Linked DNA regions of Homo sapiens: region 2 is linked to region 1. The links come from fine-mapping of genetic effects on gene expression. Tissue or cell type: monocytes. Region 1 holds a variant in brackets; the other region holds the start of a gene. All regions are shown on one strand. Distances are between the middles of the regions.

Region 1 (5,129 bases):
AAAAGTAGGGAGGATATCTCCTATCTCTAATACTCCCCACACATCCTGGTACATTGTCATGCATAGAACATACATACTCCTTGGATGCTGCTGATTTCACTGACTGTGGCAAAGAAGTAGTATAAGGACAGTGTGTGTGAGAACAAGTGAACAAAGCAGAAAGTATCATCGGGCCTTCGTGCTGCTGTGTGCTCTGACTGAAGATAACTTCAGTATCTTGTCTTCCCCTTGGTTCTAGGTCTTATTCCCCCTACAAGTGGATGTGCATATGTCAATGGATATGAAATTTCACAAGAGATATTTCACATTAGGAAGAGCCTGGGCTGGTGCCCCAACATGATGTCTTATCTGATAAGTTAACAGTAGCAGAACATCTTTCTTTCTATGGTCAGGTGAGTCGATGGATAACAGGGATTTGTTTCCTCTGTATCCACTCTTGGGAATGATGAGATAGACTGCAGCTCTCTGATTCAACTCAGGGTAGGTCTTTTTTTTTTTTTTTTTTGAGATGGAGTCTTGCTCTGTCACCAGGCTGGAGTGCAGTGGCGTGATCTCAGCTCACTGCAACCTCCTGGGAGTGTCTTTAAAATGAAAACTTGTGTTTCTCTATTCTCAACACTTCTGACACCAAATGTATGTGGAGTTTTCCCACACCAACCAATTCTCCAACTCTGCGGATAGCAACTGAGTGTCCTACAATTCAGTTCTTAATGCTGACTATCTAAAGTTAATGCAGACTCCACAGGTTTAAGGCTCAGTCTCACAAGATTGCCCCCATCCCTGACTTCAGATGTCAGTTGCAAGTTCCAGGTTGTTACCTGTACTTCTGACCAACTGGCTGTTGTTTGGGGGTTCCGACAACCTCCTCCTTAGGTTTGATAATTTGTTATAAAAGCTCACAAAACCCTTTATTATAGAGGGTATTATGAAGGATACACATGAACAACCAGATAAAGAGGTACACAGGACAAGGTGTGTGAAAAGCAGTGCAGAACTTCCATGCCCTGTCCTAGTATACCACCTTGGCAGCACCTCAGTGTATTCACCAACCCGGTAACTCTTCAGAGCCCATAGTTTAGATATTTTTAGGCAGGCTACATCATGTGGTCATGACCAGTTATTAGCACAGCCTCCAATCCCTCTCCCACTCCCTGGAGGATTGGGGGTGAGGCTGAAATGTCCAAGCTTTTTTTTTTTTTTGAGACGGAGTCTTTCTCTGTTGCCCAGGCTGAAGTGCAATGGCGTGATCTTGGCTCCTCCACCTCCCAGGTTCAAGCGATTCTCCTGACTCAGCCTCCTGAGTAGCTGGGATTACAGGTGCCCACCACCAGGCCCAGCTAATTTTTTAAATTTTATTTTTAGTAGAGATGAGGTTTCACCATGTTGGCCAGGCTGGTCACGAACTCCTGACCTCAAGAGATCCACCGGCCTCAGCCTCTGAAAGTGCTGGGATTACAGGCACGAGCCACCACGCCTGGTCTGAAATTTCCAAGCTTCTAACCATGGCTTGGTCTTTCTGGTGACTAGCTCACATCCTGAAGCAGTCCAGGAGCCCACCAAAAGTTGCCTCCCTAGAACAAAAAGATGCTCCTATCACTCAGGAAATTCCAAGGGAGTTGGGAATTCTGTGTAAGAAACCAAATCAAATATCAAATCGAAGACCAAATATTAGAACAAAAGATGCTTCTAGCAGCTTTGTCACTCAGGAAATTACAAGGGCTTTAGGAGCTCAGTGCCAGGAACCAGGGCAGAGACCAAATATATATTTTTTTATTATGTCAGTCTTGAAACCTCTTCTGGACACTATTCCTTAAACATTCAGGAAGGGTGAAGGGCATGGCGTTTAAGTCAAGATTTCTGAGTTAAAGGATTTCTACAAATGACTGTATTTGAATTTTTATATATTTTTTACTTTTTATTGAGACAAAATTCACATAACGTGAAATTCATCATTTTACTCATTTTACAATATTCAATTCAGTAGTTTTTAGTATACTCACAGTGTTTTGTTGTTTTGTTGTTGTTGTTTTTTTCAGAGTCTCACTCTGT[T/C]GCCCAGGCTGGAATGCAGTAGCACCATCTCAGCTCGCTGCAGCCTCCACCTCCTGGGTTCAAGCGATTCTCGTGCCTCAGCCTCCCAAGTAGCTGGGATTACGTGCACCTGCAACCATGCCTAGCTAATTTGTGTGTGTGTGTGCTTTTTTTTTTTGAGACGGAGTCGCACTCTGTCACCCAGGCTGCAGTGCAGTGGCGCAATCTTGGCTCACTGCAACCTCTGCCTCCCGGGTTCAAGTGATTCTCCTGCCTCAGCCTCTTGAGTAGCTGGGACTACAGGCGCATGCCACCACACCCAGCATTTTTGTATTTTTAGTAGACACAGGGTTTCACCATGTTGGCCAGGATGGTCTCAATCTCCTGATCTCATGATCCACCCGCCTCGGCTTCCCAAAGTGCTGGGCCTGGCCTAATTTTTATATTGTTAGTAGAGATGGGGTTTCGCCATGTTGGCCAGGCTTGTCTCAAACTCCTGACCTCAAGTGATCCACCCACCTCAGCCTCCCAAAGTGCTAGGATTACAGGTATGAGCCACCGTGCCCAGCCTGTATACTCACAATGCCATGTAACCATCACCACTATCTTATTGCAGAACATTTTCATTGCCCACAAAATAAACTTATACACATTATCAGTGACTTCCCATTGCTCCCTTCCCCTAGTCCCTGGCAACCACTAATCTGCTTTCTGTTTCTATGGGTTTGCCTATCCTGGATATTTCATATAAATGGAGTCATACAATATGTGGCTTTTTATGTCTGGCTTATTTCACTTAACATAATGTTTTCAAGGTTTATCCATATTTTAGTATATATTTGTACTTCACTCCTTTTAATAGCTGCATAATATCCATTCTACTCACCTGAATGTTTGCCCATTCCTCAGCTGATGGACATCGGGTTGCTTTCACCCTTTGGCTATTGTGAATAGTGCTGCTATGAACATTAGTGTTCACGTTTTTGTTTGAACACCTATTTTCAGTTATTTTGGGTAAATACCTATAAGTGAAATTAATGGGTCAGATGGTAACTCTATGTTTAACTTTTTTGTTTGTTTGTTTGTTTTACTTTTTGAGAAATTGCCGTTAGTGTGAAGTAGTACCTTGTGGTTTTGATTTGCATTTCTCTGTTGACTAATAATGTTGAGCATCTCTTCATGTGCTTATTGGCTATTTGTATACTTCTTTGGAGAGATATCTATTCCAGTCCTTTGCCTGTTTTTTTGGTTGGGTTCTTTATCTTTTTGTAGTTGAGCTGTAAGAGTTTTTTTTGTTTTTGTTTTCTTTCCATTTTTTTTTTTTTGAGATGAAGTCTCACTCTGTCACCCAGGCTGGAGTGCAATGGTGCGATCTTGGCTCACTGCATCCTCTGCCTCCCAGGTTCAAGCGATTCTCCTGCCTTAGCCTCCTCAGCAGCTGGGATTACAGACGTGCACCACCACGCCTGACTGATTTTTTTTTTTTTTTTTTTTTTTTGTATTTTTAGTAGAAACAGGGTTTCACCATGTTGGCCAGGCTGGTTTCAAACTCCTGACCTCAGGCGATCCACCAGCCTCAGCCTCCCAAAGTGCTGGGATTACAGATGTGAGCCACTGTGCCCAGCTTTTTTTTTTTTTTTTTTTGAGACAGCCTCTCACCTCTCACTTTGTTGCCCAGGCTGGAGTGCAGTGACAGGATCTCACCTCACTGCAATCTCTGCCTCCCAGGCTCAAGTGATCATCCTGCCTCAGCCTCGCAAGTAGCTGGGACCACAGGTACAGGCCAATTGCCTGGCTAATTTTCGTATTTTTTTGTAAAAATGGGGTTTTACCATGTTGCCCAGGCTGGTCTCAAACTCCTGAGTTCAAATGATCCTCTCGCCTTCGTCTTTCAGAGTGCTAAGTGAGATTATAGTCGTGAGCCACCGCACCCAGCCTGTAAAAAGTTTTTAAGTGTATATTCTAGATCCTAGGCCCTTGTTAGTTATATGATTTGCAAATATTTTCTCCTACTCTGTGGATTGTCTTTTCCCTTTATTGATAGTATTTTTAAATTTAAAACAAAAGTTTTAAATTTTGATGAAATCTAATTTATCTTTTTTTTATTTGTTACTTACGCTTTTGCTATTATATTTTAAAAATTATCGTCTAGGATTTATACTTATATTTCTTTTTAAGATTTCATAGCTTTGGTTCTTAGATTTAGATCTTTGGTCCATTATGAGTACATTTTTGTATATGGTGTGAGGTATGGGTCTACATTTATTCTTTTTCATATAGATATTAAGTTGTCTCAGCACTATTTGTTGAAAAGACTATTCCTTCCCCATTGAATGGTCATGGCATCCTTGTAAAAAGTCTATTTACCATAGATATATGGGATTGTTTCTAGACTCCCAATTCTATTCCATTGTTCCATATGTCGGTTGTTATGCCAGTACCACAATGTCTCAATGACTGTAACTTTCTAGGAAGTTTTGAAATTAGGAAATATGAGTCCTCCAACTTTGTTCTTCTTTTTAAGATTGTTTTGGCTATTCTGAGTCCCTTGCATTTCTATATGAATTTTTAGGATCAGCTTGCCTATTTTTGCAAAAAAAAAAAATAATAATAATAATAATAAGGTATTGGAATTTTAGTAGGGATTACATTGAATCTCTAGATTGCTTTGTGTTTATTTTTATTTTTTTGAGATGGAGTCTTGCTCTGTTGCCTAGGCTGGAGTGCAAAGGCTCAATCTCAGCTCACTGCAACCACTGCCTCCTGGGTTCAAGCGATTCTCCTGCCTCTGACTCCCGAGTAGCTGGGATTACAGGTGTGTGCCACCATGCCTGGCTAATTTTTTTGTATTTTTAGTAGAGACAGGGTTTCACCATGTTGGCCAGGCTGATCTCGACCTCCTGACCTCAGGTGATCCACCCACTTCGGCCTCCCAAAATGCTGGGATTACAGGTATGAGCCACTGCACCCAGCCTCTAGATTGCTTTGGATAGTAATGTCATATTAACAAAATTAAGTGTTCCAATCTATGAACACAAAAGGTATTTCCATTTATTTAGGTCTTCTTTAACTTCTTTCAGCCATGTTTTACAGTTTTCAGT
Region 2 (5,152 bases), 700 kb before region 1:
ACAGAGGTGTTGGGCAGGCCATGCCTGTGCCGCCATCTCTCCCTTCCTGCCTCATTTCATCCCCCGCAGCAGCCGGGATTGATTGTGCTTTCCTAACCCCCTTGGACCTACTCTCCCTCCTCCCCACCATTCCTCTTCCCCCACATGTGTGGCACGCTGCAGCCCTCAAGGCCAGCCCTGGCCCCTCCACTGCTTCTCTCCCCATCCACAATGGAGAAGGTGAAAAGAGGAGGGAAAGGCCTTTGGTGTGGACAAGCATGTGGACGCCCTCCGTCCTGCAGTCTTGCCAGCCCACCACAGCCACTGTAGACCACAGGCAGGCCGTGTACTGCACCACTGGGAGGACGTGGAGAGGACAGTGAACTTCCAGGCAAGAGCTTCCTTCTTTTGTCTCACGAGTTTTTCTTAGAGCTCTTGCCTGAGCTGGCTTCCCTCCTTCAGACATTGACATGAGATCTTAAGCAAACAGTCCCAAACCTCTTAGGGGTGAAAAAAGAAACATGCCACTTGATTAGGAGAGAGACAGCAGTGTTTGAACTACAGCATCTTTACACTAGCTTGTGTTTTGTGCTACGTATACCAGCTTCCAAAATTAGCATCTCATTGAGCCAGAGAAGACAAGGAGATCTCCCTCTGGGCATCTGGCTTTGCTGCGTCTCTAGAGGGTTAGGATACCAGGCCGAGTTCAGGCCACTGCTAGCTTTCTCATACTCCCACAGGCTAGACCAGAGATGCCAAGTCCCAACAGCACTGAGCTGTGTGCACTGTGCCAGGGACAGGAGGGTTTGTGAACTGCCTGTCAGGGTACCTGTTAGCCCCTGACAACTCAGTGGGGTGAAGTTTTGGAGGTCAGAGTCTGCTTTCGTAGGCTCTTTAGACAGCACCTACCACTTGGTTCTCCAGCGTAGACTCCTGGGAGCAGCCAACTGCAGCCATTGCCATCCAGTGGGGAGATGGGTTAGGGAGGAGGACGGGCTGACTCCTCTCCTGTAATAAAGCTGACAAGAGTTCTAGAGGATTCTGCTTCTCTAGTAACTAGACAGGTGATACGCATTTGCTTGCCACATTAAGGGAAAATGGTGTCATTTGTTGCAGAAAAACAATGGATACATTTTCTTCTGGCCTAAATGAATATTTATGTGCAAACATAGGCAACTGTTAAAGGCTGGAATTTTCAAAAGATCCAAACAGAGACTTCCTGCATCTTCTGCCTTTCCAACAGAAGCGGTGATCGTCTAAGTATGAGCCTGTGGCTTCCTTTGTGCATTTGAGCATGCTGTAATTAAGATGAGATCAGTTTCTTAGAAAAAGCTTTCCTGAATCCCTCTGACGTTGCCTGGGATCTTTCTGTTGATTCGTCTTTTCTGGAGATTGGGACAGAGCATCTGTGGTCCAGGGAAGTTAGTCCTCTGGCCTCAATTCTGTTGTGGATGTGCAGTGATAAGCGGGCATTGCGTGCCTCGGGGGATGCCTAGTTCGTGGCTTCCTGGCTGTTTTGTCCTTCTGTGTCTTGTAGCTGTAGGGTGCCAGCTCAGGGAGTGGGGTGTTGGCGGCGTTTCCGCGGTTGGCCTCCTTGCTTTGCCGCACCTCCAGGTTCTGGGCATGAGAGGCCGTGGCCTCATTTCTGGTGGATAACCTTTTTAGTTTAATAGCATCTTTAATTAGATCACAGCATTGAATTCAAAATTTCTTCTGCAAAGAAAGTTGTGGGGCATAAGACACCGGGAATGAGGGAGGAGGAAGACAGTTGTGTTTTCTCTTTAAACCTTGAGCTCTAGCCGATGCATTTGTCAGGAAATACAGCACTTTGTCTTAAGAAAACAAGGAAGGAGGCCGGGCGCAGTGGCTCACGCCTGTAATCCCAGCACTTTGGGAGGCCGAGGCGGGCGGATCACCTGAGGTGGGGAGTATGAGACCACCCTGACTAACATGGAGAGACCCTGTCTCTACTAAAAGTACAGAATTAGCCGGGCGTGGTGGCGCATGCCCATAATCCCAGCTACTGAGGAGACTTGAGGTAGGAGAATCACTTGAACCTCAGCGGCGGAGGTTGCAGTGAGTCGAGATCGCGCCAGTGCACTCCAGCCTGGGCAAGAAGAGCGAAACTGGGTCTCAAGTTAAAAAAAGAAAGCAAGGAAAGAGTAATTTACAACGAAGGAAAAAAACCCACAGCACACCCTTCGCGGCTGTCAGCGCTCTCCTGATGTCACAGTGGCTGCGTGTCCTTGGGGTGGGTGAGGTGTGGGGAGCCCAGCCCCTGGCCCTGCCTCCCGCGCCCCGCTCCCCTTCTCTCTCTTACTCGGTTAAGCCATAGCGAGGCCTCCGCTCGTTTCAGATATGAATTTGTTTTATAGATTATAAATATGCATATACAGTGTATGTATAAAGCAGAATGCCTGCCTTTCCTGGTTATTTTTTGTACCATATTGTAAATTATATTATTTATTCTTTACCAATTTTGGGAATAAAAGGTGTTTTGGTTATTTAATATAATAAGAGCTGTTAAACTTCTGTTTAAATTTCCAGTTCAACTTGTAAATGTTTTTATTGTGCATAAATACATACTAATGTTGATCTAAGGACTGTCGTTTGTGCCTGTTCTTCAGGGCCGCGCGCCCATGCCCGCAGTCCCTGGTCGGGCAGGTGCGGCCCAGGTGCGGCCCCGCGGTCGGCTCGCGGGCTCCCGCAGACCGGGCTTCCTCCCGAGGGCGCGGCCGTCCCAGGGCCCGCCCGGCCCGCCGCCCAATGCGAGCTCCCACCTCCGCGAGCGGCGTCGCCTTCCCCAATCGGCTGCGGGCGCGGCGCCGACCGTTCAAAGCCTAAGTCGTCGGGGGTGGGCGTGAGGGGCGGTGGCCGCGCTGAGATAGGCTGCGGAGGGATGATTGGCGTCTTGGCGCCCAATGGGCGCTGGCGGGCGGCCTTGAGTACCTGCGCTGGGCGGGCGGGAACGGCGCGCGGCGAGCTGAGGGTGGCGGCGGTCGACATGTTCCAGGTCCCGGATAGCGAGGGCGGCCGCGCCGGCTCCAGGTGCGGCGCGGGGCACACGGGAGGCGGGCGGATAGCGCGACCACGTGGCGGGAGCGGGCCAGCCCAGGGCGTCCACCAGCCGTGTGGGGTTGGGGTGGGGTTGGGGGGCAGGGCGACCTCACAGAGGCCCTCGGGGCCGCCGCCCGCCTTTCTGCGCCGCCGCCAGACCGAGGCCCGAAGCCCGAGGGGCCGCTCGCTGAGGCCCGGGCTGTGGAGAGCTGCCCGCGACCGAGGCCGAGGGCGGGGAGGGGCGCCCGGGCTCTGGGAACAAAGCTGTGTGGAGGGCGGGCTGCGCTCCCTCGCGCCTGGGCGCCCGCGTTCCGTGTGGTGCGTTCCGTGGGGGGTTTCCTGGGGGCGGGGTGTGCCCGTGGGTGCGGCCCATTTTGTCTGTGGGATGCGTGTCCATGTTCCCGGGGGGGTGTCCCTAAGGGGTGTGCGGCGATGTGTTCGTGGGGGGTGTCTGGCCATGCCCCCGCTCCTGTGCGTGTGGCCGTGTGCCCGTGTCCCTGGTGTGTGTGTGGCCTGTGCCCTGCCCATGGCCGCGCTTCCACTAGTTCATGTGAGTCCACTTCCTTTGGAAAGTGCCAGGGCGTCTGGGGAAGAGTCAGTTCTATCTCCTGGGAAGGTGGATGGCGCTCCTGGGCTTCGCTGTAGGAAGAAGTGGATTGGGACGAAGATATCCTGACTCAGCTTTAATAGCCAGGAACACTGAGCACACTTTTCTTATGTTTTTGAACTTTTAAAGCACTCTTTGGGTATTGGGACTCGCATGAATTAGAGGGACAGAGCTTACAAGGTCTTTCGTGCCACTTGAGCAGTAAACTTGCATTGTGAAGTTTGGGTCTTCAGATGCCTGAGGTTTTCTGTATGATGAGCCCCTCTGTGGCACAGCCTCGCCAGAGAAGTAGAAGAGAATATGTGTGCCATGACTGTTAAGACCAATACTATATTGCTTCTCAGCCTTTTGGCTATGATCAAGTGAAGACAAATACTATATTGAATAAATACTAAGTAAAAGAATTGCTCCAACTTGCTAAAAATAAAAACCCTTTAGATTGGCCGGGCGTGGTGGCTCACACCTGTAATCACGGCACTTTGGGAGGCTGAGGTGGGCGAGTCACGTGAGGTCAAGAGTTCGAGACCAGCCTGGCCAACATGGTGAAACCCCCGTCTCTACTAAAAATGCAAAAATTAGCCAGGCGTGGTGGTGTGTGCCTGTAGTCCCAGCTACTTGGAGAGGCTGAGACAGGAGAATCACTTGAACCCAGAGGCAGAGGTGGCAGCGAGCCAAGATAATGCCACTGCACTCCAGCCTGTACGACAGAGCAAGACTCCGTCTCAAAAAAAAAAAAAACCCTTTAGATTTGAGGGAGTTAGGTCAGTATTCAGTAATACTTGTAACCAAATAATTACCCGTGGCAGGGTGCAGTGACTCAACGGCTGTAATCCCGGCACTTGGGGAGGCCGAGGCAGGTGGACCACGAGATCAGGAGATCGAGACCATCCTGGCCAACACGGTGAAACCCCGTCTCTACTAAAAATACGAAAAAATTAGCCGGGTGTGGGGTGGCGGGTGCCTGTAGTCCCAGTTCCTTGAGAGGCTGAGGCAGGAGAATGGTGTGAACCCGGGAGGCGGAGCTTGCAGTGAGCCGAGATCACACCACTGCACTCCAGCCTGGATGACAGAGCAAGACTCCGTCTCAAAGAAACAGCCCTTCATCCATGGAACAGTGATTATTATGCCTAGGTCTGCACCGATGTGGGACCAGGAGTTTAAACTAGTGCTCAGAGCGAATCCGGTTTCTGGTTCCTGGTGGCCAGAGTTTTGCACCACCCACATCAGTGGGGGGAGGGACTGCATCCCCAGCCCTGTCCCAGTTGTGTGCATTTAGTACGTTTCCTTTTTGTTTGTGCTGCCTGGCACTGGCTGCCCGGTAAATGATGGTGTTTATTATCACCCTGAGCGACGCCGATGTTTTTATATTGACTTTCACGCTCCAGAAGTTAGCTGCACAGGGCCGCACTAAAGTCATACTCACACTACCCTGGGGGACTGGTTTCTGGACAAGGTGTTGAGAAAGGGAGAAAACTCTTCCTTTTAGGATGGTGAGGAAGGAAAGCCGGT

Which allele goes with the higher level. Positions count from the first base shown, and alleles are read on the strand shown. Sizes are in standard deviations (SD) of each study's normalised expression.
With allele C in place of T in region 1, the expression in monocytes of the gene that starts at base 2,950 in region 2 is higher (moderate effect, 0.59 SD a copy in CEDAR).

What was found. PIP is the estimated chance that this variant, and not a neighbour inherited with it, causes the effect.
Region 2: JPT2 starts here. The variant in region 1 is fine-mapped to the expression of JPT2 in monocytes (CEDAR, PIP 0.91).

The regions. Positions count from the first base shown.
Region 1 is chr16:2,379,190-2,384,318 of GRCh38, forward strand. It overlaps the pseudogene ABCA17P. Among named protein-coding and RNA genes, the nearest start is that of ABCA3, 41 kb to the left of the region's middle. The variant T/C (reference allele first, on the strand shown) is at 2,050.
Region 2 is chr16:1,675,330-1,680,481 of GRCh38, forward strand. JPT2 (Jupiter microtubule associated homolog 2) reads left to right here and starts at 2,950. Exons shown (of 5, transcript NM_144570.3): 1 at 2,950-3,027. The coding sequence starts at 2,984. It overlaps CRAMP1 (cramped chromatin regulator 1), which reads left to right. Exons shown (of 21, transcript NM_020825.4): 21 at 1-2,579. RefSeq lists silencers at 2,577-2,976, 3,007-3,366 and an enhancer at 2,807-3,442.